Homo sapiens: one gene and its partners. The protein of the gene in region 1 purifies or fractionates together with the protein of each later gene. This does not show direct contact. Each region holds a gene or a part of one and is shown in the gene's direction. Other genes may lie near its edges. The genes, in order: SMIM8, TRIM44, SEMA6B, MNDA, PRTN3 and LCP1.

Region 1 (5,642 bases):
TTAGTTTTCCTTCTAACAGACAGGACCGTAAGCTTCAGGTCTGTTGGAGTACCCGGCCGTGTGAGGTATCAGTCTGCCCCTGCTGGAGGCTGCCTCCCAGTTAGGCTGCTCGGGGGTCAGGGGTCAGGGACCCACTTGAGGAGGCAGTCTGCCTGTTCTCAGATCTCCAGCTGCGTGCTGGGAGAACCACTGCTCTCTTCAAAGCTGTCAGACAGGGACATTTAAGTCTGCAGAGGATACTGCTGTCTTTTTGTTTGTCTGTGCCCTGCCCCCAGAGGTGGAGCCTACAGAGGCAGGCAGGCCTCCTTGAGCTGTGGTGGGCTCCACCCAGTTCGAGCTTCCCAGCTGCTTTGTTTACCTAAGCAAGCCTGGGCAATGGCGGGCGCCCCTCCCCCAGCCTCACTGCCGCCTTGCAGTTTGATCTCAGACTGCTGTGCTAGCAATCAGCCAGACTCCGTGGGCGTAGGACCCTCCGAACCACGTGCGGGATATAATCTCGTGGTGCGCCATTTTTTAAGCCCGTCGGAAAAGCGCAGGATTCGGGTGGGAGTGACCCGATTTTCCATGTGCCGTCTGTCACCCTTTTCTTTGACTAGGAGAGGGAACTCCCTGACCCCTTGCACTTCCCGAGTGAGGCAATGCCTCGCCCTGCTTCGGCTCTCACATGGTGCGCGCACCCACTTACCTGCGCCCAGTGTCTGGCACTCCCTAGTGAGATGAACCCGGTACCTCGACTGGAAATGCAGAAATCACCCATCTTCTGCGTTGCTCACTCTGGGAGCTGTAGACCGGAGCTGTTCCTATTCAGCCATCTTGGCTCCTCCCCTCTTGTTTTGTTTTTAGACAGAGTTTCGCTCTGTCGCCCAGGCTGGAGTGCAGTGGCACGATCTCGGCTCACTGCAACCTTCACCTCCTGGGTTCAGGCGATTATTCTGCCTCAGCCTCCCGAGGAGCTGGGATTACAGGCCCGCACCACCACACCCAGCTAATTTTTGTATTTTTAGTAGAGACGGGGTTTCACCATATTGGCTACGCTAGTTTCAAACTCCTGACCTCAAGTGATCCTGACCTCAAGCAATCTACCCGCTTCGGCCTCCCAGAGTGCTGGGATTGCAGGCGTGAGCCACCCTGCCCGGCAGGAAAGATACTTTTTTAGAAAGTATGTTTTACCTTAAAAACAACATATATATAATCAATTTTTAAAACTTAAGTGATTATAATTTTTTTTCTTAAATATTGTAATATACATGCAAAGGCCTTTTATCAATTCAAGAGTAAGATGGGGTGAGGTGGTGAAATATTGGTGGGCTGGTAATTGGGAGACCTAGGTGATCGCACCCTCCTGGTAAGGACATCTCCTTGGGTCTGGGTTTCTCAGAAAGGGGTTTAGAAGGGGGAGTTAGACTAAATGGTGAGTATGAAAGTAGCTACCATTCATTGAACATCTGCATCTTTTAAAATGTGTCATCTTAATTAATGCACACATTTAGTACCTATCTATGCAATAGATAGTATTGCTCCTTTTATAAAGGTAGAAACTGAGAATCAGAGTTGTCACTTAAAGACACACAGCTTATAAGTAGCAAAGTGAGAATCTGAGGTTATGCTATGTTTCCCCTCAAGCCATGAAGTCCTCTGATTCTATCCCAAACTTGTTTAAACTAATTTAAATTATTTTTAAGGTTTTCTGCCCCAAAGTTCAAGTTAGTTTCTTAAGTATTAAGATAATGTGGCATGTGAAACTATAAAAAAGTGTATTATACTTTCATTAAAATATTTTGCCCATTTTATAATTCTCTGTCTTTTAAAGGAAATGCTTTCATTATTAATAAGGTTCCTGCTCGTTAACATTTTATGATTCTGGTCATTTTGTTTTGTCTTCTATTGAGGTGCTTATTTCTAAAATGTATGTTTGAAGATTAAGTGTTTCCCTCAAAGTAATTCTTATATTCTTTATATCTTAGTCTAATTTGCATGTACAATATATTAATAGGTAGTCAAGTATTCTGGAATAACTCCCTGAGCAAGAATTTTGCTAAAGAAGGGAAAATCATTCAAAAATGACTAGTCCTGACTCTCGGTGTAGGACCATCTGTACAGCCTCTCACATTGTGTGTTATTAATTTCAGGGGCTTACTATTCTTACACTTTGAGATGTAAATGACTCTCATGGAGTTGGGTAAACGGGCAGTCCTTTATCTTTGCTTCTTCCTTTTTCCATTGCACGCTTCCGTCACAGGAGGATGGACAGAAGAAAAAGGTAAAGAACATTTTACCAGAGAGAAACAAATGAAGCAAATACCCCTTAGTTTAGACCTTTTTTACAGGCACCTGTGAAATGTTCTACTCTCCTCTATTTTTTTTTTTAAGAAAAGATAAATAACAGTTTCTTAATCATGCATGGAAAAGGGAACAAGAAGTGGGTGATGGAAAAATGAAGAAGAAATAAGAGTGGGGCAGATTGCACAGCCAGGGGTGCCTGATTAATTATTTTGCAGGTAGGCCCGCACACAAATTAATCACAAAATTACTTAGCCAAGAGCAGTGTAATGCCAGGTTCCCAGCATCCTTGCTAATCTATGTGTATGTATGTTTTATGTCATTACTGTTTTAACACAGTAAATGAGGTTTTTAAATGCAGCTTAAAAATAAATAGATCCTCAAAGTGATAATAACTAGAGATTGGTCAATATCATATGTAAGTAAATGAGTGACAGCTGCAGTGGAAACAAAAAGTAAGAGAAGAAGGTGGAGAAACTAGTGGGAAGACTAAGAAAGTTCTGATGGAAGTGTGCTGGACATTAACTGGTTTTGTCTTAGGTGAGTGGTAATGTCAGAGTAAGTTATTGCCATGCCTTGACTTTATGATTAGTTCTGCAGCTTTTAAAATTGAAACTTGTATTAGTTTTGTACTTGAAAACAGCTAGTCAACTTAAACTTCAGGATTAAAAGTTTACTTGTTAAAATACAGATTTGTTTTCCCCAAAACAATTTATACATGTGTGAAGAAATGACTAAGGTTTTGCATTCTACCTGTTTTATTTATTCCTGGCACATCTTGAATTTATTCGTCAGCCATACTTGTACAGCTCTGTGGGCTGGCATGTGAACAAATACAGAAGAATTTTCTCGTATGTAGAAAAGATTTTGTTTTTGTTTTTGTTGTTGTTTTTAAAATAGTTATATATAACAAATTCTTGGCTGCTAAGACCCTTTCTGGTCTCAGTAATCTGAATTTTTTTTAACAAAGTATAGATGGTTGTTAAAAAGTCTTAGTTTGATAGATGGTGTAAATAAGTTCATGGAATTTTGGGAGAATTGTTGTATCATCAGTGACTGTGGCTCATAAAGGAGAAGCAGCAATAAAACTGAGCTGTTTTATCCCACTTCTAATAAAAGAATGATAAATAATAGAAAATGTTACTCTCATACTTTCCAGAAAGTGTCAGTAACAGTGGAAATTGTGGTATATTAAATCTTTTAAAAATATACATGTGAGTTTCCAGTCAAAATATTCTGTCATTTCTAGCAGAGTTTAACATAAACAGTGAATTATTAAGGTAAATGTGAGTGTCTGGGAGTTGCAATATAACAAATACTACCCTGATTATTTTATTGATTCATTATAAAGGAAATATAGGTTCTGCTAAGGAAAAAAGGAGATCAAGCAATCTTACAAATAAAATTAAGTCATCACAATTAGTGTTAGAATGCTATATAACTATATAGTTTTTTACAGACATATTTCATATAGGTTGAATTTCATAACACTCAGCATCACTGCATCCATTTAATTTTAAAATACTGACATTTTTGTTAGTTGTAACTAGTCTCTCTCTTTCTCTTTCTCCTCCTCTCCTCCCCCCCCATATATGTATATATATATATATAAATGACAGCAGATCCCTTCTGAATAGATTAATGCCCTCCCTGAGGGGATGATTAACTCACTCCACACCTGAAGTCCAAAATTATATACAGTATATAATTTTATATACCCCAGGAGTGGAGTAATAATAATATATAATGTAAATTGTATATTACATTATTGTTTAATATATAATTTATTATGTTAATAAATTACATATAATTAATATATAATTATATGTAACATAATTTTATATAATTTTGGACATCAGGTGTGGAGTGAGTTCATCCTCCTCAATTCCTGGCACATTATCATCCACACAAAGTATATGTAATAAACTATGCTCTGAGGACCCTTCTGTGCTCTGCAATATGAACTTCTATACCCATCTTTTCCATCACCTTGGAAAAATGCTGTTTATGTCAGTTTCTGGTTACAATGACTTTTACCTTTGTATATTTGCTTTTTCAGGCCTTTGTAGTATTTTTATCTAATGCCTCAGTTTCATGTAGTGGCACACTCTGAGGCTGAGATTCAGCCCTAATAACATGGCCATGGGCTATTTTCTTCCTAATGTTCCTTATAGGTTTGGCTGTTGACAGACTATAATACTGCTTCCACTTTAATGACTGCTTCATTTTGCATTTTCTTTTCCTATCTTAGCCCATTTGTGTTGCTATAAAGGAATACTGAGGCTGGGCAATTTATGAAGAAAAGAAGTTTATTTGGTTCATGGTTCTGCAGGCTGTACAGGAAGCATGGTGTCAGCCTCTGTTTCTGGTGAGGGGCTCAGGTTGCCTCCACTCATGGTGGAAGGTGATGGTGATCTGGCATGTGCAGAGATCACATGGTAAGAGAGGAAGCAAGAAAGAGAGGGGAGGTGCTAGGCTCTTTTTAACAACCAGCTCTCCAGGGGACTAATAGAGTGAGAACTCACTTGCTCCCCACGCTCCCCGAGGAAGGGTATTAATCTATTCATGAGGGATCCACCCCCATGACCCAAACACCTCCCACTAGGCCTCACCTCCGACATTGGAGGTCAGATTTCAACGTGAGGTTTGGGAGACAAATACCCAAACTATAGCACCCACGTTTATAGTCAAACAAGTTTTTAGCACAGGGAGAAACATCACTGACACCTGTTATAGGCACCTGGTGGCCAACATTTGTTACTTAAATTCTAAATACCTTTATAAACACCATCGTGGCTAAGAGAAGAAAAATGAAACACCAGCAGTTCTCATTAGAAGAAAAAAATGGTAGTAGTGGAAGCAGTAGATTGCTGCCACAACAAAGGAGAAATAGCAAAGGAATTTAACACCACTACCCCAACATTGTTCACATTTTTGAAAGATTGAGCCAAGATTGAAGAGAAAGTTTAAAAAGGGATTCTGGGACTAAAGCAAAAGTGAATGTGAGGTCCCTTTTATCACTGTTTTTGCATGATATCAGGTTCATGCAAGAAATGGGCATGTAACTGTGCTGTAGAAAGCATTGGATTTTTGCCAACCTTAGGAATTGTGTTAGTCTCTTCTTGCGTCATTATAAAGAAGTACCTGATGCTAGGTAATTTATAAAGCAAAGAGGTTTAATTGGCTCACGGTTCAGCAGGCTGTACAGGAAGCATGGTGCCAGCATCTGCCCCTGGTGAGGGCTTCAGGAAGCTTTCAGTTGTGGTGGAAGATTAAGTGGAAGCAGGCATGTCACATGGTGAGACAGGAAGCAAGAGGGAGGGGAAGAAGTGTCACACTTAAACAACCAGATCTCACATGAA
Region 2 (5,009 bases), on another chromosome or scaffold:
TGAGACAAATGCTCTGTTGAAGCCATGCCACTACAGGATACATTCACCTCTGCTTGCTTTCCTCCCTAAGCCAGAGTGTAGTTAAACATTTATATGTCCCAGGCCAGGAGATCAAATTAAGAGGAGGTTAGCTACTTTCCCTGGCTCTTAAAAACATTTGAGTCCAAGTATGGTTCTCTGGCTTGAGGGTGGCCATTTGTTGCCTCACTGTTTTTATTAGGACATCTGGAGATTAGAGGTGTTAATTGGAAGTAACTTTTCTATATTTGGTTTCTCTCCACACATTATGAGACCTTTTAGACCCAGTTGGATGGCTGTATCCTAGTATGAAATTCAGCTTCTAAGTAGGAAGAACTATGATAGAGGAACAAGATTGCTCTTTGACTTGGTGATAGTAGGGCAATAGGGAGTGTCAGTAGGGTAGTTTCAGGTGGGGAGGATGACAAACCACTGATAACAATAAAAATGGGTATTTCTCAACACTCAAGCCAATTTCCCATTTGATAACAAGTAGGTTCTGATCTATTTTCCCCAAATTAATATTTTCCCTGGAAGATTCTGACCTGTCTGATCAAATAAAGGCATTCCTCTGAGAGTATACCTAGCCCACTTGTGGCCAAATTATACTTGACTGTTATGTACTCAAAACAAGCTTTCCTGTTAATCTCTTTCTCTTACCTCTATTATGAGGACAAGACGTGGAAGAATTAGGTCACCGGGGCATCTGCCATTGCATATGTTTAAGTGGTATAAAGAAGCCAGGATTCCTAGAATGGTCTGTCTTTTGCCATTTCTGGGACAATGAGAAAATCCATCTGGAGTGTTTATGCCCCTCTGAATAGCCAAGTCATGGGCTTGTTTGCTTTCAGTCACTGCCTTCAGAAAAAGACAATTTTACAATGACTTACTTCTAATAATCACTGAAACAGCCTCATGAGGACATGCAAAACTGCTGTCTATCTTCAGACCTGGCCCATTGTCAAATGGCAGACTTGCAGAGCAAATAAGGGACCTGGCCTAGTTCACAAGGCAGTCAGAAGTGATCCAAAGTTCAGGCTCCCCCTCCCTTTTATCACTCCACCCTGCCTCTACTCCTCCGCCTCCTATTCTTCCGGCCTTTCCATCTGGAAACCATGAGCCTCATGGATTCCAGGCACAAATTCTCAGATTTCAGATGTTTGGGAAATTTCTCAGCTTGGGTCATTCTTCAAGAGTAAGAAATTGAATTTGTGAGAAAAAAAAACAGCTGAGACTGTTTCACAGAAGAGAAAATAAATAAGGTGTGGTGCGTATCCATCCTCTTCCCAACTCAGCTCCAAAACCACACACAATGTCTAACTTCAAAAAGAGTATTTAGATCCCCCCTGGGAAGGAACAGAATGGAAAAACAATCTCCACTCATAAAAACACTTTTCTGCCTTCTACAGTATAAACACAACTGGCATCAGATAATACAATGTAATTGATTTTATGTGTGTAATTGGGGAACAGAAGGGTCTCTAGAGGGTAGACCTAAGAGTAATGGAATGGAGTGAAAAGTAAAATTTAGACTAAATTGTTGGGAGGAAACTGTTAACATTGTGAACCACTTGACCCTAGTGTTGCATCTTCACAAAAAAGAGCAATGTGCCGTCTTCTGTCTTTGGAAAATGGGACAAGCTTGCTCCTGATACTAGGTTTTAGAAGCATACAGACTTGGTTTTAGTACTGGCTTTGTTCTTTACTAACTCTGAACAATTAAATGAGCAGATGGTCTACAGGGCTTAGTACAGTGCCTGACACATAGTAAGCACTTAGAAATGGTAGCTTCTGACTGTTGTGCTGGAGTCCTGTTAGAGATTCAGTAGATGGAGCCACCTTCATGTTGCCCCTCACTGAGCTGCTCTGCTCACCTCTAGATGCTCCCCATGGCTGTTTCATAGCCCTCTGTACCACATCCCCATGTACTTTTTCATATCAACGGTAAGTACCTCAAATTACCGTATGTATTTACTTGTTCATAAGGTTGATGTCTGTAACTCTTTGAAGGTTGTATTAGTCGTTTGCTCCTATATTACTAATGATGACAAAGTCGCCTGACAGAGTAGATGTTCAAATTTATGGACTTAAACTGACTGACATCTTGATAATGCCCATATCCAGAGGTACTCCAGATATTATATCTTCATGCAGAAAACTGAAAGATACCTTTAGCTACATCTACCCCAGAATGAGTGTCCAAAGCAGGTGGCACCACCAAAAGGCACCTTCTTTTCCCATGAAAAGAGGGAAGAGAGTTGAGAAGCCTCACTCCCATCCCTGCTCTGCCACTGACAAGTTGTGTGGCATTTGGCACATCATGTTCTCTCTCTACATGCGCCTAAAATGACGGGTAGGGTCAGAGACATTGGAGGATCTCTCTTTTCTCTTCCACCTCTAACACGGTAAGATCTTAGCAAAGTAAAAAGGACAGTGATAACAGAAAAATTGTTCCTCTAAGAGTCCCAAGTCATCTTTTTTCTCTCCGTGTGTGTTAGCATTTGTGTGTGTCTGTGGGTGTGTATGCATGTGTGTGGAAGCTATACAAGGAAAGCTGAATCCATATGTAGACTTCATGGAGACTAGTACTGCTCCAAATGTGCACAAGCCATGTGATATGGTTTGCCTCTGTGTCCCCACCCAAATCTCATGTTGAAATGTAATCCCCAATGCTGGAGGTGGGACCTGGTGGGAAGATTGGATCATGGGGGAGTTTTCTCATGATTTAACAACATCCGCCCTTTGTTGTCATGATAGTGAGTTCTTGTGAGATCTGGTTGTTTAAAAATATGTGACACCTCCCCCCACCTTCCTTCTGCTCTGGCCATGTAAAGTGCTCACTCCCCCTTTGCCTTCCACCATGATTGTAAGTTTCCTGAAGCCTCCCTAGAAGCTGAGCAGATGCCAGCATCATGCTTGCTGTGCAGCCTGCAGAACTGTGAGCCAATTAAACCTCTTTATGAATTATGCAGTCTCAGGTGTTTCTTTATAGCAGTGAAAGAACGGACTAATACACCACGAAAAAAAAAAATGTACCACAGTCAAATAAACTGGGAAGCAAAACAGTGGGCCAAACAAAGTTAAATAGGTTTCTTCCCTGTAGAATTTCTGGGAGCTTTTAATATGTTCACGTGCATTGTAGAGCTTTCATGTAACAATTTTCTAGTTTTCTGGCAGTTCTGTGTAACAATTTTAGGAAACACTGATTTAGAGATGAATCTAACTCTTCCTGAGTTAACTGTTGAGAGAACAAAGGCCCAAAGAGATTCAAGGATTTGCTTAAGGTCACCTGGCTATTGGGAAAGCTGAGTTCTCCATATTTGACCACTGCATCCCAGAAGAGAATGTCTGTTTAGTGACTCAAGAGCCCACATTAGAACATTCTAGGAGACATCCCAAGGTTTCTCCCTTGATTCTAAAGGGAAGAGTTTGATAGGCTGCAATTCTCTGTCTCAGGACTTGCACAGACATTAACGTTCAGCATAGTGCAAGCTTCTTTGTCAGTGTGGTGCCGTCGGTAATATGGGGTGCAGCGCTGACAAGCTATGGTTCTCTCTCTCTTCCTCTCTCTCTCTCTCTTCTTTCCTCCCTCCCTCCTGGTTCTCTTTTCCAGGTTACATTCCAGGCTCACTATTGTCATACTCTTGAGTGATAGTAAAGAATAAAACAGCACTGACCTGCTTGATTAAGATCTCTACCGCATCGATATACTGATCACCAGGGTATTCAGGTGCCCAGTAAGCCTTGTGCATGGGAAGCCTCTTGACTCAAACGAATGGTGACTGGGAAACTGAGGTGGAAGGCCACTAAAGGTGGCAGTTTGTATCTGGCCTCTTAACAGTGTTCACCATGAAACATTCTCAAATGCCTTCCCTGATATGTTAGCCTGAGGCATCAGAGGAACCGTCAGGTGCCTTGTGGGGCTATCAGTGTGTGACAGGCAGCAACATGGGGGTGGGAGGTGTAGTAAGAGTAGGTGTGTGTGTGCAACACCAGAGGGAAATATAGGCATATCAGGAAGAATAATGACTTGGCACCCCTCCAAACTGCTATTGTTTAGATATTAGGTCAACATTTATTTAGAGAAGATGGAGGCAGGTGTGGGGTAGGGAGCTGGAGTCTGTGTCCCCACCTGCTTACCACACTCACAGAAATAAAAGCCCGGGCCCTCTTTTTAGAAGACCATTTAGGGACCATCTGTTGTTATTCCAGCCTAACCTTTTTGGGGTCTCACCCTATCCACTTCCAAATGGCTTTCAAATTATTTCTTCCAATCCCATACAATTACCTCCCTGAAAGGAGTTCTTGGAAGTGCAGTTTTGTCCATCTCATTAGTGAGGTTTTTGCAGCACTGCAACCCCCTCCCCCAACAAACTGGTCATATGTTGTGTGTGTGGTGATCAGGCTGGTGATTTAGTGAGGAGCCCACTCCTCATCTAGAAAGTATGCGTGACACCCAGATCACAACACTCCCCATGTGGTCACCGGCTGTCTCGTACAGAGTTCATGAACTTCCAAGTAAGAAGAGACACAAGAGTGGTATTTTCTTAGGAGATTATTAGACCCACCAGAAGGTAACAAGAGCATTTAGCAATGATAAAGAATAAATATCCCCACTTACTGGGGCAGCTCTCTTTCCTGTCTCTTCCTCATCCCTTTCCTCAGCTTCCTCCTACTCCTCTCCCAGAAATAAAGGAGCTTCATCTAGAAGAGCTCATGGACAACAAACATGCCTGGAAAAAGCTATTGCCTGATTGGCTCCCAGTTTTCATTGTGATGTTTCACACCTATCAAGTGACTTTGTTTTTAGAAATGCACAACCAAAGTATGGCCTTGAATTGGATCAACCCACCATCTCACTTCACAATACTCAGCCTAACATGACAAAACCACCAAGACAACCAGTTAATTTAACTGGAAAAAAAATCAGTTCAGCCAGTTGTTTGGCAGAGGTTAAGTAGAACTGTGTTGATTGAATTATGCATTTTAAA
Region 3 (5,642 bases), on another chromosome or scaffold:
GAGGGTTTGAGACCAGCCCGACCAACATGGCGAAACCCTGTCTCTACTAAAAATACAAAAATTAGCCGGGCGTGATGGCACGTGCCTGTAATCCCAGCCACTCGGGTGGCTGAAGCAGGAGAATCGCTTGAACCCAGGAGGTGGAGGTTGCAGTGAGCCAAAGCACTCCAGCCTGGGCGACAGATTGAGACTCTGTCTCAAAAACAAAACAAACAAAAAACCTGAGGGTCGTTGGGCAAAGCAATGGGTACCTCTGGTGAATCAGGCCCCTTTATGAGAACCTTTACGTTCGTCCTGACCACACCCTTGTCACCCCCAGGCCCGGGTGCTGCGCAGCCCCCGGGATGCAGTACAATGCCTCCAGCGCCTTGCCGGATGACATCCTCAACTTTGTCAAGACCCACCCTCTGATGGACGAGGCGGTGCCCTCGCTGGGCCATGCGCCCTGGATCCTGCGGACCCTGATGAGGTCGGTCCTGGAGAGGCAGGGCATGGCGAGGGGAGACAGGATGGGGTAGATGGAGGGTGAGAGGATCCAGATGCTCAACACAGATGAGCCCATGGCTTCCGGCGCTGCCCAGAGAGCTGGAGACACAGAGAGACAGAGAGGGAAAGATGGAGAGACACTAGGAAAGAGAGAACAAAGAGAGAGACAGAGGGATCAAGAGGTGACAGATGGGGCTGGGCACGGTGGCTCATGCTTGTAATCCCAGCACTTTGGGAGGCCGAGGCTGCCAGATCACCTAAGGCCAGGAATTCGAGACCACCCTGGCCAACATGGAGAAACCTCGTCTCTACTTAAAATACAAAAATTGGCCGGGCATGGTGGCTCACGCCTGTAATCCCAGCACTTTGGGAGGCCGAGGCAGGCGGATCACGAGGCCAGGAGATGGAGACCATCTTGGTTAACACAGTGAAACCCCGTCTCTACTAAAAATACAAAAAATTAGCTGGGCGTGGTGGCAGGCGCCTGTAGTCCCAGCTACTCAGGAGGCTGAGGCAGGAGAATGGCATGAACCCGGGAGGCGGAGCTTGCAGTGAGCCAAGATCACGCCACTGCAGTCCCGCCTGGGCGAAAGAGCGAAACTCCGTCTCAAAAATAAAATAAAATAAAATACAAAAATTAGCCAGGCGTGGTGGTGGGCGCCTGTAGTCCCAGCTACTCGGGAGGCTGAGGCAGGAGAATCACTTGAACCCGGGAGGCGGAGGTTGCAGTGAGCCGAGATCACGCCACTGCACTCCAACCTGGGGCCAGAGGGAGACTACACCTCAAAAAAAAAAAAAAAAAAAAAGAGGTAGACAGACAGACACACACCAGGAGAACAAAGGGGGAAAGAGACAGAGAGACAGGGAGAGAGACAATCAGAGACAGACAGACACCCAGAGAGACAGAGATAGGGAAGAGAGACAAAGAGAGAAAGAGACTGAAAGATACACAGACACACATACATATCAGGAGAAAGCGGGGCTGGGCACAGTGGCTCATGCCTGTAATCCCAGCACTTTGAGAGGCTAAGACGGGAGGATCACTTGAGGTCAGGAGTTTGAAACCAGCCTGGCCAAATGGTGAAACCCTGTCTCTACTAAAAATACAAAAAAAAGAAAATCAGCTCGGTGTGGTGGTGTGCGCCTGTAGTCCCAGCTACTTGGGAGGCTGAGGCAGGAGAATCGCTTGAACCCAGGAGGCGAGATCGAGCCACTACACTGCAGCCTGGGCAACAGAGTGAGACTCTGTCTCAAAAAAAACAAAACATAAACTTGCCAGGCGTGATGGCGTGTGCCTGTAGTCCCTGCTACTCAGGAGGCTGAGGCAAGAGAATTGCTTGAACCCGGGAGGCGGAGGTTGCAATGAGCTGAGATTGCGCCACTGCACTCCAGCCTGGGTGACAGAGTGAGACTCCATCTCAACCAAAGAGACAGGGCTGAGGAGAGCCTGGTTTGGGGTTATGTTTCAAAAAAGGGCGAGTGTGCCCACGTGCCTGTGTAGTCACGCATGTCCCCGGCATCCATGCACACACGCATTTATTGCTGTCACATGTGTTGGTGTGTCAGTGTCTGTATGCACCCGTGTAACTATGGCCATGCCCGTGTTGGTGGCATGTGGTGATATGGGGCCAGCCTGACCCTCCCCTGCCCTGTCCCCCAGGCACCAGCTGACTCGAGTGGCTGTGGACGTGGGAGCCGGCCCCTGGGGCAACCAGACCGTTGTCTTCCTGGGTTCTGAGGCGGGGACGGTCCTCAAGTTCCTCGTCCGGCCCAATGCCAGCACCTCAGGGACGTCTGGGCTCAGTGTCTTCCTGGAGGAGTTTGAGACCTACCGGCCGGACAGGTAAGTCTGGGCAAAGGTGGGAAGGGGTCGCCAGCAGGAGGGGAGATGGGCTGAGATGCGCTCAGCCTCACCACTCTGCTTGTCCCCAGGTGTGGACGGCCCGGCGGTGGCGAGACAGGGCAGCGGCTGCTGAGCTTGGAGCTGGACGCAGCTTCGGGGGGCCTGCTGGCTGCCTTCCCCCGCTGCGTGGTCCGAGTGCCTGTGGCTCGCTGCCAGCAGTACTCGGGGTGTATGAAGTGAGTGTCCACCCCAGGCCAGCCGTGGGCGGGAAGCAAGGGAGGATGGGCACAGGGAGGGACAGCTGGGTTCCAGTCAAAAGCCCAATGATGTCCTGGTCATTGAGCTGGGCAGAGGGCATGGCCCGTGCAAAGGCCCGCGGGCAGGACCACTCCTGGTGTGTTGGAAGAACAGCAAGGTGGCCGGTGTGGCTGGAGCACAGTGAGCAAGGGGGAGTGAGGGAGGAGGGGAGGACGGGGAGGGGATGGGAGAGGACGAGGCAGTTTGTGCAGAGCTTTGTGAGCCTCGGGGAGGACTTGGGCTTTGACCTTGAAGGAGATGGGAGCCATGTAGGGTTGCAGGCAGAGGAGGGACTGGCCCTGACTCAGGTGCTTACAGGTGCCCTCTGGTGGCTGCTGCCAGGAGGAGACTGCAGGGGAAGGAGAACCAGGGACCAGGGTGGAGGCTGTTTCCCCGTCTCTAAAATGGGAGGAAAGCTAGGATGCATGCCAGTGCTGGCACACGCCTGCACTCCATGTGAGCCGTCAATGCGGAGGACCCTGCTTCCTGCCCGCCGTTATTGCAACAATGACCCAGTAGCTCCGAGTCCAAGGGCACAGCCTCTGGCACGATGCCTGGGCTCCCATCTCAGCTCTGCCACTTGGGCAAACATTTACTTTCTGGAGCGTCAGTTTGCTTATCTGTAAAGTGGGGAGTGAACAGTGCCCTGCACACAGATTTGTTCTAAGGACTCCAGAAGTTGCTATTAAGAAGAGGGACTGGGCTTGGTAGCTCACGTCTGTCATCCCAGCACTTGGGAGGCCAAGGCAGGAGGACTCCTTGAGCCGAGGAGTTCGAGACCAGCCTGGGCAACACAGCATAGTGAGAGCCTGTCTCTAAAAAAAAAAAAAATGCAAAAATCAGCTGGGCGTGGTGGCACACACCTGTGGTCCCAGCTACCCAGAAAGCTGAGGCAGGAGGATCACTTGAGCCTGGGAGGTTGAGGCTGCAGTGAACTATGATCATGACACTGTACTCCAGCCTGGGTGACAGAGCATGACCCTGTCTCTTAAAGAAAAAAAAAATTAAATTTTAATTTAAAAAAATTTTTTTAATTTTAAAATAAGAAAACGCCAGCCGTGGTGGCTCACACCTGTAATCCCACCACTTTGGGAGTCCGAGGCGGGTGGATCACTTGAGGTCAGGAGTTCAAGACCAACCTGGTGAAACCCTGTCTCTGATAAAAATGCAAAAATTAGCTAAGTATGGTGGCGCGTGCCTGTAATCCCAGCTACTCGGGGGGCTGAGGCAGGAGAATCGCTTGAACCCGGGAGGCGGAGGTTGCAGTGAACCAAAATCCCGCCACTGCACTCCAGCCTGGGCGACAAGAGCGAAATTCCATCTCAAAAATAACTAAATAAATAAACAACAAGAGCGAAATTCCGTCTCAAAAATTAATTAATTAAAATAAAAATAAAGAGGCAGGTGCTTGGAACAGGGCCCACAGGTCACCATCACCATTGGGGTTGTGTAAGTGACTTGGACACTTGTCCCATTCGGTCCCTGGTCTGCTCTAGGAACTGTATCGGCAGTCAGGACCCCTACTGCGGGTGGGCCCCCGACGGCTCCTGCATCTTCCTCAGCCCGGGCACCAGGTACTGCGGGAGAGGGAGGTGGGTGGAGGGTGTGTCAGACCCGCCCATGATCCCAGATCCCCCTGATCTCTGACTGTGAGAGGGGCCTCTGCTGACGGTGCCTCCTCTCCCCATTAGAGCCGCCTTTGAGCAGGACGTGTCCGGGGCCAGCACCTCAGGCTTAGGGGACTGCACAGGTGAGTTGGGGGGACGGCAGGCTAAGACCCCCATCCCCCACTACCATGGGGGAGGGGAGGGAGGAGGCTGGAGGACCCTCGAATCCTCTGGGAGGTGGGTGGGGAAACTGGACTCCATCAGAGAACTTTAGAAAGGCATGGGGTGGGCCGGGCGCGGTGGCTCACGCCTGTAATCCCAGCACTTTGGGAGGCCAAGGTGGGTGGATCACGAGGTCAGGAGATCTAGACCATCCTGGCTAACACGGTGAAACCCCGTCTCTACTAAAAATACAAAAAATTAGCCGGGCGTGGTGGCGGGCGCCTGTAGTCCCAGCTACTCGGGAGGCTGAGGCAGGAGAATGGCGTGAATCCGGGAGGCAGAGCCTGCAGTGAGCCAAGATCACGCCACTGCACTCCAGCCTGGACGACAGAGCAAGACTCCGTCTCAAAAAAAGAAAAGAAAGGCATGGGGTGGTCTCATCTCATTTATTGGGGAGGGAGATAGGGGAAGAACAGAGACACCAAGAAACAGGCAGGCTTTGGCAAGGACGAAGAGACAACAGAAGGCAGACAGACCAACTTCAACAGGACAGAAGGGGCCAGGCGCGGCAGCTCCTGCCTATAATCCCAGCATTTTGAGAGGCCAAGACAGGACGATCACTTGAGGTCAGGAGTTTGAGACCAGCCTGGGGAATATAGTGAAACCCTGTCTCTAAAACAAAAACCCAAAAATAATCCAGACGTGGCAGTGCATGCCTGTAGTTCCAGCTACTTGGGAGGCTGAGGCGGGAGGATCGCTTGAGCCCAGGGAGGTGGAGGCTGCAATGAGCTGTGATCAGGCCACTGTACTCCAGCTTGGGCAACAGAGTGAGAACATGTCTTTTTTTTTTTTTTTTGAGACAGAGTCTTGCTCTGTCACCCAGGCTGGAGTGCAGTAGTGTGATCTCAGCTCACTGCAACCTCCACCTCCCGGGTTCAATTGATTCTCCTGCCTCAGCCTCCCAAGTAGCTGAGATTACAGGCGCACACCACCATGTCCGGCTAAAATTTGTATTTTTAGTAGAGATGGGTTTCACTTGTTGGCCAGGCTGGTCTCAAACTTCTGACCTCAGGTGATCTCCTGCCTCAGCCTCACAAAATGCTAGGATTATGGGTGTGAGCCATCATGCCTGGCCCAGATCCTGTCTTTAATAAAACAAACAGGTAGCTGGAGGCAGGGTTGCAGTGAGCTTTACCACTGCACTCTAGCCTGGGGGACTGTCTCAAAACAAACAAACAAAAAAAATT
Region 4 (5,642 bases), on another chromosome or scaffold:
TGATTCAAAATTTGCAGGTTGTATGTTTCTAATAATTTATCCATTTATCCATTTCATTTAGGTTATCCCACTTATTGATGTATAATTGTTCAAAGTATTCTCTTTATTTCTGTGAAATCTGTTGTAATGTTCTCTTTTTAGTTTCTGATTTTATTATTTGAGTCTCCTTCTTTTTCTTCTATGTCAATTCAGTTAAAGTTCTGTCAGTATTATTCACATTTTCAGAAAACCAACTCTTTTTTTTATTGATTTTCTTTATTATTTTTCTAATCTCAATTTTACCTCTAATTTTTATTTTTTCCTTCCTTTTGATGGCTTTTGGTTTAGTTTGTTCTACTTTTTTAAGTTCCTTATGGTGTAAAGTCAGATTATTGATTTGAGAGTCTTCTTTGTAAATGTAGTTGTTTAAATCTGTAAATTACCCTCATCACCATATTCTTTGCATTTAATGAAATGATATGTTGTGTTTCTATATAATTTCTCTAAATATGGATTTAAATTTGACTTGTGATTCTTTGTACATGTTTCATTGTTTGTGTTGTTTATTTTCACAGGGTCATGAATTTTCTAGTTTTCTTTCTGTTGATTTCTACTTTTATTCCATTATGATAAAAAAATATACTCTGTATGATTTCAAACGTTTAACATTTATTAACACTTGTTTGGCATCCTAATTTGTGGTATATGTTGGGACAATGTTCCATATGTTCGTGTGAAAAATGTGTATTCTACTGTTGTTGGCTTTACTGTTTTGGATATATCTGTTAGATATAATTGGTCTATAAGTGGTCTATAATGTTTTTCAATATTTATTTTTTCCAAATTTTCTTCTGTCAGATTGTTCTACCTATTATTGAAAGTGGAACATTAAAGTCTCTTACTATTACCTTAGAGTTGTCTATTTCTCCCTTCAATTCTGTAAATGTTTCATATATTAGGAGCCCTGATGTTTTGTGCATGTATGTTTCTAATTGTCATATCTTCTAGGTGAACTGGCCTTTTTAACACTATGTAATATTCTTTGTCTCTTATAACACTTTTTGACTGTTATTTTTATTTTATCTGATCCTAGTATAGCAAACTCTGCTCTCTTATTTAATATTTCAATGGAATATCTCTTTTATTCCTTCACTTTCTATCTTTGTCCTTACATCTGTAAAATGAGCCTCTTGTATGCAACATATACTTGGATCCCCTGTTTTTAAATTCATTGTGATATATATGTATATATAATTTTAATATGCTTTTTGATTAGTAAGTTTAAACCATTTACATTTGAACTAATTATTGATAAGGAAGAACTTAGAACTTATTGTTGCCATTTTTTATTTGTTTTCTGTATGTCTTAATAGGTTTTTGTCTCTTAGTGACTTCTTTTTGTTGATTTTTTTCTGTAGTGAAACATTTTTATGTTCTTCTATTCCTTTGTGTACATCCTACAGATATCTCTGTGGTCATCATCAGGTTGCATATGATATTCTAAAGTTATAGCAATCTATTTTTAACTAATAACAACTTAACTTCAATCATATGCAAAATGTTTACTCCTTTACAGCTCCCCAACACATATTTTATGTTAATATTACAAATTGCATTTATATAATATGTACCAATTAACATTGATTTATAAATTGTTTTGCTTTCACATTTTAAATCCTATAAAATAATAAAAAATGATTACAAATCAAAATAGCAAAAGTCATGTTTCATGTTTATGTATATACTTACCTTTCATCAAGAACTTACATTTTTGTATGAGTTTGAGTTACCATCTAGCATCCTTGTGTTTCAGCTTGAAGAAATCTCTTTAGTATTTCTTTTAAGGTAGATATAGTGGTAATGAAATCCTTCAGCTTATGTTTATCTGGGAATGTCTTAATTTCTCTCATTTATGAATAGCAGGTTTCCCAGATATAGCATTTTTGATGGACAGACTTTTCTTTAAACACTTGAAATGTATTGTCCCACTACCTTCTGGTCTACAAAGTATTTGCTGAAAAATGTGCTCATAATCCTATTGAAGATTTCTTGGATATAATGAGTTGCCTTTTTCTTGCGCTTTTTAAATGATTTTCTTTTCGTCTTTGAGTGTTGGTAATTTGATAATAATGTGTCATAGTGTAAGTTTCTTTGAGTTTATCATAGTTGCAGCTTGTTTGGTTTCTTATATCTGTACATTTAGTCTTTTCTCAAATTTGGAAAGTTTTCAGTCCTTATTTACTCAATAATTTTGTTATTCCTTTCTCTTTTCCATCACCTTTTCAGACTTACATAATGCATATATTGTCCCACTTGATGAACTTTATAAGTTCTGTTCACTTTCCTTTATATCTTTTAAAAAAGTTTGTTCTTCAGCCTTGATAATTACACATGACCTGTCTAAAAGCTAACTGATTCTTCTGCCTATTGGTGTGGGCTGAGGAACCCCTCTAGTGGATTTTACAATGCAGTCAATGTGTTTTTCAGCTTCAGAATTTATGGAATTTTTTCTGGTAATTTCTATTTTTTGTCTATTCTCATTTTTTATTAATCATTTTCCTGATTTTATTTAGTTGTCTCTACCTATTTTCCTTTAACTCATTTATCATATTTAAGAGTGCTGTTTTAGTCTTTGACAAGAAAGTCTGAGGGCTGTGTTTCTTTAGAGAAAGTTTGTGGAGATTCATTTTTTTCTTTAAAATTGACCATGTTTACCTGTTTCTTTGTATACCTTTTGTTGAAAACTGGACATTTGTAAAAACAGCCCCCTCTCAACCATTGTTAACTGGCACCATATTCAGGGGAGGACTTTCACTCTTCAGCTAAGTATGAAATATAAACGTTCTCTGAGGCCTATATGGACGTGTGTCTTGCCTGGGCTTATGTGTGTGCATTTTTTGTAATTCTCTCATATACACACTGCTTTTAATCTGTAATTTCCCTAAGAGCCACACCTGCCTCTTTTCATGACCTTAGATGTTCTACTGTATTCCTCTATCCATAATCTCTTGCCTTCTGGCACCCAGGGAGTAGCAGATCCCATGAAGCTCTCACAAGCTGGAGCACCCACCACTACTTTTTGCAGCCTCAAATCTGACATTTAAACTATGCCACCATTTCCATCAATGCTCCAAGTCATGTGAAGCAGTTACTAGTCCCTCAAGGAACCTACAGAGAAGCTATAATGTTGCAAAGCAGTTCCACACTTTTCCTTCTATTCCAAAGGAAGAATGAGGAATTAGGAAGTTTCCTCCTGATCACGTCACACCATTCAAGGGAGAAAGTTAAACAGGGACAAAGAAAAACACCTAGAAGTTTTCCACTATTTTGAATGTGGCTTAATCTTGGTTTGGAATTTCCTTTGTTGCAACCAATTCTTAACAGCTGAAAACATTAGTTTGGTTCATAAATTGTTCTTTATTTGGTGTTTCCATGGTATAATGAAAGTCTGGAACGTCCTTGTCTGCAATCTTGCTAATGTCACTCTCAGTGAGAAGAGAACAATTTTTTAAACCATAACATTCAAATAACATTTTGACCAGATACAAAATTTTAGTTTGAAAAATATTTTTGCTTGAAAACTGATTCACAGCACTTCACCTGAAACCCCTGGGACAACTCTGATTTTTAATTCATTTTTTTAGGGGGGGATTTTAGAAAGACTACTTAATGCATACATTGTATGTAGGCACTGCAAGTGTCCCAGTAGAGGTAATATCAACATCCTAATATCAAATGCATTAAGAGTTCTTCAACAAATCATGCCACTATTCACATTAAAGTGAGATGAATAAGGAAGATTAAAAATAGCCACTGTATTAGTTCCTTCTCACGCTGCTATGAAGAAATACCTGAGACTGGGTAATTTATAAAGAAAAGAGATTTGATTTACTCACAGTTCCGCACGGCTGGGGAGTCCTAAGGAAACTTACAATCATGATGGAAGGCACCTCTTCACAGGGTGGCAGGAGAGAGAATGAGTGCTAGCAGGGGAAATGCCTGATGTTTATAAAACCATAGATCTCATGAGAACTTGCTCACTATCACAAGATGATATTTCAAGATGAGATTTGGGTTGGGACATAGCCAAACCATATCAGCCACGTATTACTTCACATTATATCTCTAATTTGCAAGATGATTTTGCTACCACACTTCCCTGCTAACTCTCATCCCTTCCCAAGCCCCCAAACCGCACAAATCTTTTCATCCTTCAGTATCTTCTTAGGTTTTAAAATTGCAGACATATAATTATGGATCAGTACTATGTAAAAATTACTTTCTTAACCTGCTGCAGACTGTTCAATCAGATTATTTAATCTTTGTAGGTGTTCTACTCAGTATTTCTGGAAGATTTTATCATTTTGCTTTTAATATTCTTTGGCTTTACTATATGTGCCCATGTGTGAAATTTCTCTTTATCTGATAGGTTTAAACACAGGAACACTCATGTTCTCCCAAAAGAGAACAATTTACAGCCCTAAGAATTTGGACACTCTAATTATATAAAAGTTGCACAAACACATGGTCACCAACCTAAAGGAATACCTATAAATTTAAACAGAAAATTGGAATATACGTTAGGAACTGAATGCCCTTAGGTAGTACACAAGGGGTTAAAGAGGCACACATAAGTGAGAGTGGGACCACAACAGCTCGCAGAAGATAAAGCCTCAATTAAGCATTAAAAACTCTAAGGAAGTATTCAGAGGAAGAAAACTGGGAATGCTTTCCCAGATAGCAGGAAGGGAATTAGCAGTAAGAAGACCTGAAAAAGAAAGACATATTGTGTATTTCTAGAGCATAAGGTATAAGAAATTCAAAAGTAACAGACACACACAAAAAGAAAGATACAGTTTATGCAAGGCCTTTCAAGTCATGCTGAGTAGAAATCTATACTAATAAAAATCAAAACTCATTGAAGGATTTCAGGAAAAATAGAGTCATGTCTTTATCCATAAAGAAACCTACTTGGTTGTCTGACAGAAACCTTTTAGTAAAAGTAAGACTAGTTGGAGGTAAATAATTGACTGTAAAAAACAAATGTGCAAAAAATAAATGCTGCAATTCCACACTAGAGAGCAGATAGGAGGATGGCAAAATGACAATTTTATAGATGCATAGGACACAGAGAACAAGTTCTAAGCCCCAGGGAGAAAAAGTGCTAACGAGAGCTGATTAGGGAGAGCCAAGAAGGACTAGAGTCCATTCCACAACTCAGAACTGTAGTGCTGTGGCAGAAGGTTATTCACATAAGGTGAGTGGCTGCAGCCCATTTATACTTAGGCCACTTTGGTCATAGTGGATGACCAGGAAGAATCAGGGAAGAATCAGGGAAGAATCAGGAACCAAGAGGTAGGCATTGAGGGATAGGCTCAGGCCCCAATAAAATATCAGAAGAGGAACCAGGGACTTTGACACCACAAAACCCATACTATAAATACTGCAACAATTACCTGTTTCCAAACATCATTTCACCACATACACCTCTGTCCCAACTTATCAACATTAAAAGGGAAGAACTTCACTGAACCTCCTAATAAAGCAAGTCTTGATCCATTGTTCACAGTGACATATCTGGTAACTTAGTCCCTTTTTCTTATACGCATCCAAGGACAACATTTTGGCCTGGGACACTCACTCACAAAAGCATATCTCATTTT
Region 5 (4,480 bases), on another chromosome or scaffold:
GTGCTGGGATTACAGGCGTGAGCCACCGCGCCTGGCCCTTTTTTTTTCTTTTTTGAAACGGAATCTTGCTCTGTCGCCCAGGCTGGAGTGCAGTGGTGCAATCTCAGTTTACTGCAGCCTCAGCCTCCTGGGGTCAAATGATTCTCCTGCCTCCGCCTCTTGAGTAGCTGGGATTACAAGCACACACCACCACACCTGGCTAGTTTTTGTATTTTTAGTAGAGATGGGGTTTCACCACGTTGGTCAGGCTGGTCTCGAACTCCTGACCTGAGGGGGATTTTCAATGCCTCAGTTTGTTCATCTGCAAAATGGGTCTCTTTGTTGGCTGATTTTTTTTTTTTTTTTTGCTTCTTTTTTTTTATTTTGTTTTGTTTTGTTTTTTTGAGATGGGGTCTCACTCAGGCATGAGCCACTGCGCCCAGGATTTTTTTTTTTTTTTTTTTTTTTTGAGACAGAATCTCACTCTGTTGCCCAGGCTGGAGTGCAGTGGTGTGATCTCGGCTCACTGCAACCTGTGCCTCCTGGGTTCAAGCGATTCTCCTGCCTCAGCCTCCCAGGCAGCTGAGATTACAGGTGCGAACCACCACACCTGGCTAATTTTTTTTTTTTTTTTTTTTGAGACGGAGTGTCATTCTGTTGCCAGGCTGGAGTGCAGTGGGGCGATCTTGGCTCACCACAACCTCCGCTTCCTGGGTTCAAGCGATTCTCCTGCGTCAACCTCCGGAGTAGCTGGGACTACAGGCACGTGCCACCACGCCCAGCTAATGTTTGTATTTTTAGTAGAGACAGGGTTTCACCATGTTGGCCAGGATGGTCTCCATCTCTTGACCTCAGGTGATCCACCCACCTCGGCCTCCCAAAGTATTGGGATTACAGGCGTGGGCCAACCGCACCCGACCAATTTTTCTGCTTCTTTAAAAACATTTTTTTAAATTTTGTTTTAGAGACAGGGTCTTGCTCTGTTGCCCAGGCTGGAGTGCAGTGGTGTGATCTCAGTTCACTGCAGCCTTGACCTCCTGGGCTCAAGCGATCCTCCCTCCTCAGCCTCCCAAGTAGCTGGGACGACAGGTGCACACCACCATGCCTGGCTAATTTTAAAATTTTTTGTAGAGATGGGGTCCTCACAATTTTGCCCAGGCTGGTCTTGAACTCCTGAGCTCAAGGGAGCCTCCTGCCTCGGCCTCCCAAAGTGTTGGGATTACAGGCGTGAGCCACTGCACCCAGCCACCTGGTCTGCGTCTTAAAAGCCTTCCTGACTCTCAGGACTGAAAGCTGCCACCAGGGCGCCTTTGGAAATCGTCGTAATTATAACCCCCCCGGCCTGGGCGCTGAGTCCTTCCCACCAGCCAGCAGGCACTGACCGGGTTGCAGATCGGGAGACGGAGGCTCGGAGAGGCCCAGGGGCTGCTCTGCCATCCCCCCTTTCCCTGCAGCCTGGGGGCTCCCTGACGCCTGGACTCCCCCCCTGCAGGTGCTGCCCGAGCTGCGGAGATCGTGGGCGGGCACGAGGCGCAGCCACACTCCCGGCCCTACATGGCCTCCCTGCAGATGCGGGGGAACCCGGGCAGCCACTTCTGCGGAGGCACCTTGATCCACCCCAGCTTCGTGCTGACGGCCGCGCACTGCCTGCGGGACATGTGAGCGGCCGCCTCCACACCCCTGTCCGCCCGCCCCGCCCTCTTCCTCCAGCCCTGGCCCGGCCACTGTCCCTCTGCCCGGGGAGGACCCAGCTAAGCCCCGTCTGCAGACCCCAGGCCCCGCGCGCGTGGGCAGTTCTGGGGGGAGGCCCGGGGCAGGGTCGCCGAGGGAGGGGTCTGGGGCTGCACCGCGGCCTCGGGAAGGGCCGGCTGTGGGCGGCGGCGAGTGTCCAGGGCGCCGAGGAGTGACCACCCCACCCCCGCAGACCCCAGCGCCTGGTGAACGTGGTGCTCGGAGCCCACAACGTGCGGACGCAGGAGCCCACCCAGCAGCACTTCTCGGTGGCTCAGGTGTTTCTGAACAACTACGACGCGGAGAACAAACTGAACGACGTTCTCCTCATCCAGGTGGGCGGGCAGGGCCGCGAGGGCTCGGAGGGGCACGGCCAGAGGGCTCCGGGACCCCCATTCCTGCAGCCAGCATTCATTGAGCACCCACTGTATACCGGGCCACGACCGAGGCCGCTGCAGCCTGGGTCCAGTGGCACTGGCCGGGGGAGACCGCTCCTTGGACACCAGGCCACTCCTCCTCCCCGCCTCTCCCCCGCCCGCGCCTCTCCCCCGCCCGCGCCTCTCCCCTGCGCGCCTCTCCCCCGCCCGCGCCTCTCCCCCGCCCGCGCCTCTCCCCCGCCCGCGCCTCTCCCTTGCCCGCCCCTCTCCCCTGCCCGCGCCTCTCCCCTGCATGCCTCTCCCTTGCCCGCCCCTCTCCCCTGCCCGCGCCTCTCCCCTGCGCGCCTCTCCCCTGCCCGCGCCTCTCCCCCGGCCGCTCCTCTCCCCCGCCCGCGCCTCTCCCCCGCCCGCGCCTCTCCCCTGCGCGCCTCTCCCCTGCCTGCCCCTCTCCCCTGCCTGCGCCTCCGCCCGGTGTGCTGTTCCCCCAGAAAGCCAGGTGCCCTCGCCTCCTCCGGCGCCTCCCCTGACCTCACTGGAAGTGGCGAGGACAGCCACAGCCCTCCCCGATTCACTGTTCTCCACTGAACCGCGTGCTCCTCTCATTCATGGGGCCCTCCTAGCCTCCTCCCACCCAGAAAGATCAGCTCCCCAGGGCAGAGGATTTTTGTCTGTGTTGTTCGTTATTGGACTCATGTGGCTTAGAACGGGACTGGGCATACAGGTGGTGCTCAGTAAGTGCTTGGGGCTGGGCACTGTGGCTCACGCCTGTACTCCCAGTACTTTGGGAGGCTGGGATGGGAGGATCACTTGAGGCCAGGAGTTTGGGAGCAGCCTGACCAACCTAGTGAGACCCCATCTCTATAAAAGACATTTTTTTTTTTTTTTTTTTTAGACAGAGTCTCACTCAGTCATCCAGGCTGGAGTGCAGTGGTGCAATCTCGGCTCACTGCCACCTCTGCCTTCCAGGTTCAAGTAATTCTCCTGCCTCAGCCTCCTGAGTAGCTGGGATTACAGGCATGCACCAACACGCTTGGCTAATTTTTGTATTTTTAGTAGAGACGGTGTTTTGCCACGTTGGCCAGGCTGGTCTCGAACTCCTGACCTCAAGTGATCTGCTCTCCTCAGCCTCCCAAAGTGCTGGGATTATAGGAGAGAGCCACCGCGTCCAGCCTACAAAAGAAAAATTTAAAAATCAACCGGGCATGGTAGCACACGCCAAGCCACTCATGAGCTGAGATGGGAGGATCACTTGAGCCCAGGAGGTTGAGGCTGCAGTGAGCTGTGATCATGCCACCACACTCCAGCCTCGGCGACAGAGCAAGACCCCATCTCAAAAAAAAAGTGCTTTGAAGATGAATGAATGGGCCAGGGGCGGTGGCTGTAATCCCAGCACTTTGGGAGGCCGAGGCGGGCGGATCGCCTGAGGTCAGGAGTTTGAGACCAGCCTGATCGATATGGCAAACCCCGTGTCTACTAAAAATACAAAAATTAGCTGGGCGTGACGGCAGGTGTCTGTAGTCCCAGCTACTTGGGAGGCTGAGGCAGCAGAATTGCTTGAACCCAGGAGGCAGAGGTTGCAGTGAGCCGAGATTGTGCCACTGCACTCTAGCCTGGGCAACAAGAGCGAAACTCCATCTCAAAAAAAAAAAAAAGAAAAGAAAGAAAGAAAGAAAACATGAATGAATGGCCGGGCACTATGGCTCACACTTGTAATCCCAGCACTTTCGGAGGCTGAGGAAGGCAGATCACTTGAGGTTGGGAGTTTGAGACCAGGCTGGCCACCTCACCCAATGGGATGGCTCCGGGAGGTTCCAGTGAGCCGAGATCACGCCACTGCATTCCAGCCTGGGTGGCAGAGCAAGACTCCATCTCAAAAGAAAGAAAGAAGGAAAGAAAATGAATGAATACAATAGTGACAAATGGGACAAAGGGGGTCGTGGGGCCCAGGCGGAGGGAGCGGCATCCGCGGCGTTTTGAGGTGGTGGGTGTGGTGGGTGTGGTGGGAGGGCGGCCCGGGCGGCCACCGTGACCTGGAAGCAGCGTCTCACCGCCGCCTGCCTTCTGCCCCAGCTGAGCAGCCCAGCCAACCTCAGTGCCTCCGTCGCCACAGTCCAGCTGCCACAGCAGGACCAGCCAGTGCCCCACGGCACCCAGTGCCTGGCCATGGGCTGGGGCCGCGTGGGTGCCCACGACCCCCCAGCCCAGGTCCTGCAGGAGCTCAATGTCACCGTGGTCACCTTCTTCTGCCGGCCACATAACATTTGCACTTTCGTCCCTCGCCGCAAGGCCGGCATCTGCTTCGTAAGTAACCGTGCCCCCACCCCGGGCACCGGGCTGCCATGAGGGGAGGAGGGCGGCGGCCAGGGTTCCACGCCACCTCTTAGCTGTGTGGC
Region 6 (4,520 bases), on another chromosome or scaffold:
GGAGAGCAGGAGGTAGTAAATGTGGGCTTGGGTAGAGTGAAGAGTGTCTGGTGTAACCATAGTAAGAGGTCACTAGATAATAAACGAGGTGAATAAAAGAACTGCCAGGTAGTAGTGTGGGCTCATTTGAAAATAAATTACAATTAATGAAATTTATCTTCATATATCTACAAATAGAGCAAAAATGTTCTGATGCAGCTATTATCATTCTATGTGAAAATATGGAATATAAATCTCTGGCTACTCTATATTATAGTACCATAAATAAGTACAAATATATGTGGGCAAGAATTGGAATGGAACAAAGAATAAAAAAATTGATGTGTAAGGCTAGGATTTTTTTTTTTTCTGAGACGGAGTCTCACTTTGTTGCCCAGGCTGGACTACAGTGGCACGATCTTGGCTCACTGCAGCCTCCGCCTCCCGGGTTCAAGCGATTCTCCTGCCTCAGCCTCCTGAGTAGCTGGGACTACAGGCGCACGCCACCACGCCTGGCTAATTTTTTGTATTTTTAGTAGAGATGGGGTTTCACCATGTTGGCCAGGATGGTCTCGATCTCCTGACCTTGTGATCCACCCGCCTCGGCCACCCGAAGTGTTGGGATTACAGGCGTGAGCCACCGCGCCTGGCCAAGGTCAGGATATTATACATTTTTCCTCTTTTGTTCCTTGTCAAAATGTTACTGTAGTTGAAATGTAGTCTGCAAACTTTTCCTAGCACACATGTTTATTCAGTTCTGTGACTCTTTCTGCTATGCTGCTATGTAGCCCAAGAGAATACTCCTGGTGTGAGTATCAAAAGTGGCAGCACGTGCTGTAGTGGCTCACACCTGTAATCCCAGTGCTTTGGGAGGCTGAGGCAAGAGCTTCTCTTGAGGCCAGGAGTTCAAGCCCAGCCTGGGCAACATAGTGAGACCCCTGTCTCTACAAAAAAAAAAAAAAAAACTTAACTTAAAAAAAAGGCAGGAGCTGAAGAGGTCTCCAAGGACAAATAATACACTTGATAATGATCACGAGACTAGCCAGCAAGTCTGATGCTTTGTCAGAATCTTTGGTTGAGCCAAAATTTGTCCACAAAAGTGTGAGGATGCTGGTGACTGACTCCAGCCACTGCAGGAGTGAGTTCTGTCCTGACTATGGAACGACTGTGACTGTGACCCTCCAGGGTCCCATTCGTGTTGTGTTTCTCAGGCTCTCCTTATTTTTCCTCTTTTCTCCCTTTTAGATATGCCATCTCTATGGCCCGAAAAATTGGAGCAAGAGTGTATGCCCTGCCAGAAGACCTGGTTGAAGTGAACCCCAAAATGGTCATGACCGTGTTTGCCTGCCTCATGGGGAAAGGAATGAAGAGGGTGTGAGGCCCAATGGGGCTGGGTGGGAGGCGGTGCACTCACTCCTGACTGCCCGGCACAGATGCTCCAGGGATGATTCAAGCCATTCCAAAGTTCAACTTGGTGACACTCTATAAGATTCCAAAAAGCACATATTAGTGCAGCCAAGTAGCCTCTCCTGTATTTAACAAAAAGTGCTTCATTCTTTGCAGGAGGCCCAACCTCCTATATATAGGTTTCTATTCTTGATTTATTTGCTTCTTCGAAAATCTAGAGGAAAAGAAAGAAGTTATTTTCCAGGTACCCTTCTCGCTTTTGCCATTAGCCAAGGATAGAAGCTGCAGTGGTATTAATTTTGATATAATCTTTCAAACCAGCTTCATGTGGCTTCCCTTTTCTTTGTTCAAGATGAGGGCCAGGAGGGGAAACATCACACCTGCCCTAAACCCTGTTCCTGGAGGTCAGCATTTGATCTGTTGCAAGCCCCTCTTTCTGTCCCCTCTTCCTACCCTGCCTCCCTTGACTTTGCTCCTCACACTTTTGGAACCATGCCTTCCGGGGGGGCCCATCTCTTCTGGCCGTCCTTGTCTCTGGGCCACTTGGAGTGTGTGATAAATCAGTCAAGCTGTTGAAGTCTCAGGAGTCTCTGGTAGCCTGCAGAAGTAAGCCTCATCATCAGAGCCTTTCCTCAAAACTGGAGTCCCAAATGTCATCAGGTTTTGTTTTTTTTCAGCCACTAAGAACCCCTCTGCTTTTAACTCTAGAATTTGGGCTTGGACCAGATCTAACATCTTGAATACTCTGCCCTCTAGAGCCTTCAGCCTTAATGGAAGGTTGGATCCAAGGAGGGTGTAATGGAGCATCAAGCCACTCGGCGGCAGCATGGAGCTATAACTAAGCATCCTTTAGGGTTCTGCCTCTCCAGGCATTTAGCCCTCACATTAGATCTAGTTACTGTGGTATGGCTAATACCTGTCAACATTTGGAGGCAATCCTACCTTGCTTTTGCTTCTAGAGCTTAGCATATCTGATTGTTGTCAGGCCATATTATCAATGTTTACTTTTTTGGTACTATAAAAGCTTTCTGCCACCCCTAAACTCCAGGGGGGACAATATGTGCCAATCAATAGCACCCCTACTCACATACACACACACCTAGCCAGCTGTCAAGGGCAGAATGAATCTATGCTGGATAAGAAATGGTGGAACTGCGTTATGAAGAGCTAATTTACTGGACAAAGAATTCCAAAGCAAAACCAGAACAGTATGAATTTGAGCAGGTCTCATAGGTTGAGCAATTTCCCCCTAAACCAACTGAAGGCTAAAAAGCAACAGGCCATTGTGAACCAATGCAAGACGCCCTCTATCATGGTGAAAAGCTCCATCAATGAGGTATCTTCTTTAGTGGTGGTATGTAATGGAACTTAGCCATTTTTCAAAGCAATTGAAATGCATTGCTCTGGATCTGTTCCTTGGCAGTGGACTCAGAAAGCCAACATGTGGCTCCTCCCAGCCCATAACCAGTATTTTTGCTGCTTCTGAATACAAATTGGTTGGTTTTGACTTCAGATTGAACTTACTGTAGCCTCAGATGATTTCCCCCCTCCGCCTCCAGGAAGAAAGAATGTTACTGCCTTAATAAAAAATGAAAAGAGAATGATGCTCAAAATCTTTCCAAATAAAATGTTCCCTATATTAGGTGTCTCTGGATGTTTCATTTTGAAAGTTTGCTGACAGTGTGCTATAAATCGTTCATTCATTCATTCCTCCAACACGTTCGAGTGCCTAGTATGTGCAAGGCACAGTGCAAGGTTTTAGGAATGTGCCTATGAACTAAACAGGCACTGTGCTCAGCTGATGCCTGTCTTAGGAAAGACGGAAGTTAAACAATTAAAATAACAGATGTGACGAGTGATAAAAAGAAGGGCAGGGTGAGACATGAGTTTATGACAGGAAACAGTCTGAGGAGAAATAGTTTAGCTAAAAACTGAAGAATAAATTTCCGTTAGGCAAAGCAGGGAATAAAATTAAAGCTGAGAGCCAAACTCAGAAATACACTGAACTTGTAGGAGTGAAGAGGTGTGATACCTTTCCTCACCTATCATAAGAGTCACGGCCAATACTATGACAAAAGATGGGTAACAAGAGAAAAGGGTAACATATTTCTTTCATCAAAGTTTTACATGACATGGGAGCTTTTAGAAATGAAAACCCAAAGATCCAAGGAAAACTGTTCATTTTTATGCTTAGATTTAATGCAGAATGAACGGCCAGGCAGAAATGTGATTGGGCAAAAGGCTGTGATCTAAGGCTAATAAATGGAAGGGGAAGCCCAGCAAGGCCTGTGTGTTCCGATTCTTCTTGGCTGCAGTCTGTAGCATTTTTTCCTCCAGGGATCAGGGCAGGACCCCCCTGGAATGAGGGTCTTATTACCTACTATCAGGCAAGGTAGGTCAGAGAATTTCTTTACCGTCACTGTCTACACAGAAAGGCAGGGGAAGGTTAGAGTAATTTTTCTAGGGTTTTATGGCTTGCTTTGGGGGAAAGGGGTTCTAGTTTCTATGACCCTCCTTGAGAAAGAGGAATTCTGCTTTCTGCGAGTTGCTTCAGGGGAGAAAGAAGAGGAGGAGACAGGAGGGCAGGAGAAGATCGGAGAGGGAGACCTTGTTTCTGAGGTTTCCTTGGAGGCTTTCCAGTCTCCTTTAGTTCAAAGTACTCTGCACACCAAAGTGCCACACTTTGGGGTTTCATTTTTTTCTGAGCCCCAACAAACCCGATCATAAACCAAAGTCAGACTTGGGGATTGGTGCAAAACAATGTCCAGACTGATTCGAGGAGGAATCTTTGGGGTGAGCAGCGCCCGAGATCTCCTCTCCAGCTTGGCGGGGCCTTACTTGGGAAGAAGTGGGGGTGCACTGCGGGGATGCAGAGGAGTTCTGCTGCAGCCAACTTCCTCAGTTAGGCTGCTGTGACAGAGAAGCTGGCCGTCGATTTGGCATGATCACGCTTTGACCTGCAGAGGAGCCACCCACCCACACAGCAGATGGGAAGCTGGGCTTTTGTGCCTAAGCTGTGTGTCCGGGCTTTACCAGCAACTTCTTCTTGGAGGTAGCTCCTTCCTGGCCTAAACACTGCTGCACCTTCTATACTTAGGAGGTCACTCTGTTCCCAACATATCAAGAGGCTATAG

The links.
Region 2: the proteins of SMIM8 (region 1) and TRIM44 purify together in Homo sapiens (co-immunoprecipitation; one large-scale study listed by IntAct). This does not show direct contact.
Region 3: the proteins of SMIM8 (region 1) and SEMA6B purify together in Homo sapiens (co-immunoprecipitation; one large-scale study listed by IntAct). This does not show direct contact.
Region 4: the proteins of SMIM8 (region 1) and MNDA purify together in Homo sapiens (affinity purification with mass spectrometry; one large-scale study listed by BioGRID and IntAct). This does not show direct contact.
Region 5: the proteins of SMIM8 (region 1) and PRTN3 purify together in Homo sapiens (affinity purification with mass spectrometry; one large-scale study listed by BioGRID and IntAct). This does not show direct contact.
Region 6: the proteins of SMIM8 (region 1) and LCP1 purify together in Homo sapiens (affinity purification with mass spectrometry; one large-scale study listed by BioGRID and IntAct). This does not show direct contact.

What each region holds. Positions count from the first base shown.
Region 1 is NC_000006.12:87,328,453-87,334,094, forward strand, and holds part of SMIM8 (small integral membrane protein 8), read left to right. Parts: intron 1-685; exon of another isoform or gene 686-826; intron 827-2,239; 5' UTR 2,240-2,260; intron 2,261-5,642.
Region 2 is NC_000011.10:35,815,023-35,820,031, forward strand, and holds the end of TRIM44 (tripartite motif-containing protein 44), read left to right. Parts: 3' UTR 1-2,985; downstream 2,986-5,009. UniProt on the Homo sapiens protein: May play a role in the process of differentiation and maturation of neuronal cells. May regulate the activity of TRIM17. Is a negative regulator of PAX6 expression.
Region 3 is NC_000019.10:4,544,950-4,550,591, reverse strand, and holds part of SEMA6B (semaphorin-6B precursor), read left to right. Parts: intron 1-319; coding exon 320-469; intron 470-2,146; coding exon 2,147-2,329; intron 2,330-2,418; coding exon 2,419-2,565; intron 2,566-4,122; coding exon 4,123-4,200; intron 4,201-4,317; coding exon 4,318-4,376; intron 4,377-5,642. UniProt on the Homo sapiens protein: Functions as a cell surface repellent for mossy fibers of developing neurons in the hippocampus where it plays a role in axon guidance.
Region 4 is NC_000001.11:158,836,440-158,842,081, forward strand, and holds part of MNDA (myeloid cell nuclear differentiation antigen), read left to right. Parts: intron 1-3,875; exon of another isoform or gene 3,876-3,957; intron 3,958-5,642. UniProt on the Homo sapiens protein: May act as a transcriptional activator/repressor in the myeloid lineage. Plays a role in the granulocyte/monocyte cell-specific response to interferon. Stimulates the DNA binding of the transcriptional repressor protein YY1.
Region 5 is NC_000019.10:841,990-846,469, forward strand, and holds part of PRTN3 (myeloblastin precursor), read left to right. Parts: intron 1-1,471; coding exon 1,472-1,637; intron 1,638-1,903; coding exon 1,904-2,045; intron 2,046-4,157; coding exon 4,158-4,388; intron 4,389-4,480. UniProt on the Homo sapiens protein: Serine protease that degrades elastin, fibronectin, laminin, vitronectin, and collagen types I, III, and IV (in vitro).
Region 6 is NC_000013.11:46,124,428-46,128,947, reverse strand, and holds the end of LCP1 (plastin-2), read left to right. Parts: intron 1-1,224; coding exon 1,225-1,357; 3' UTR 1,358-3,025; downstream 3,026-4,520.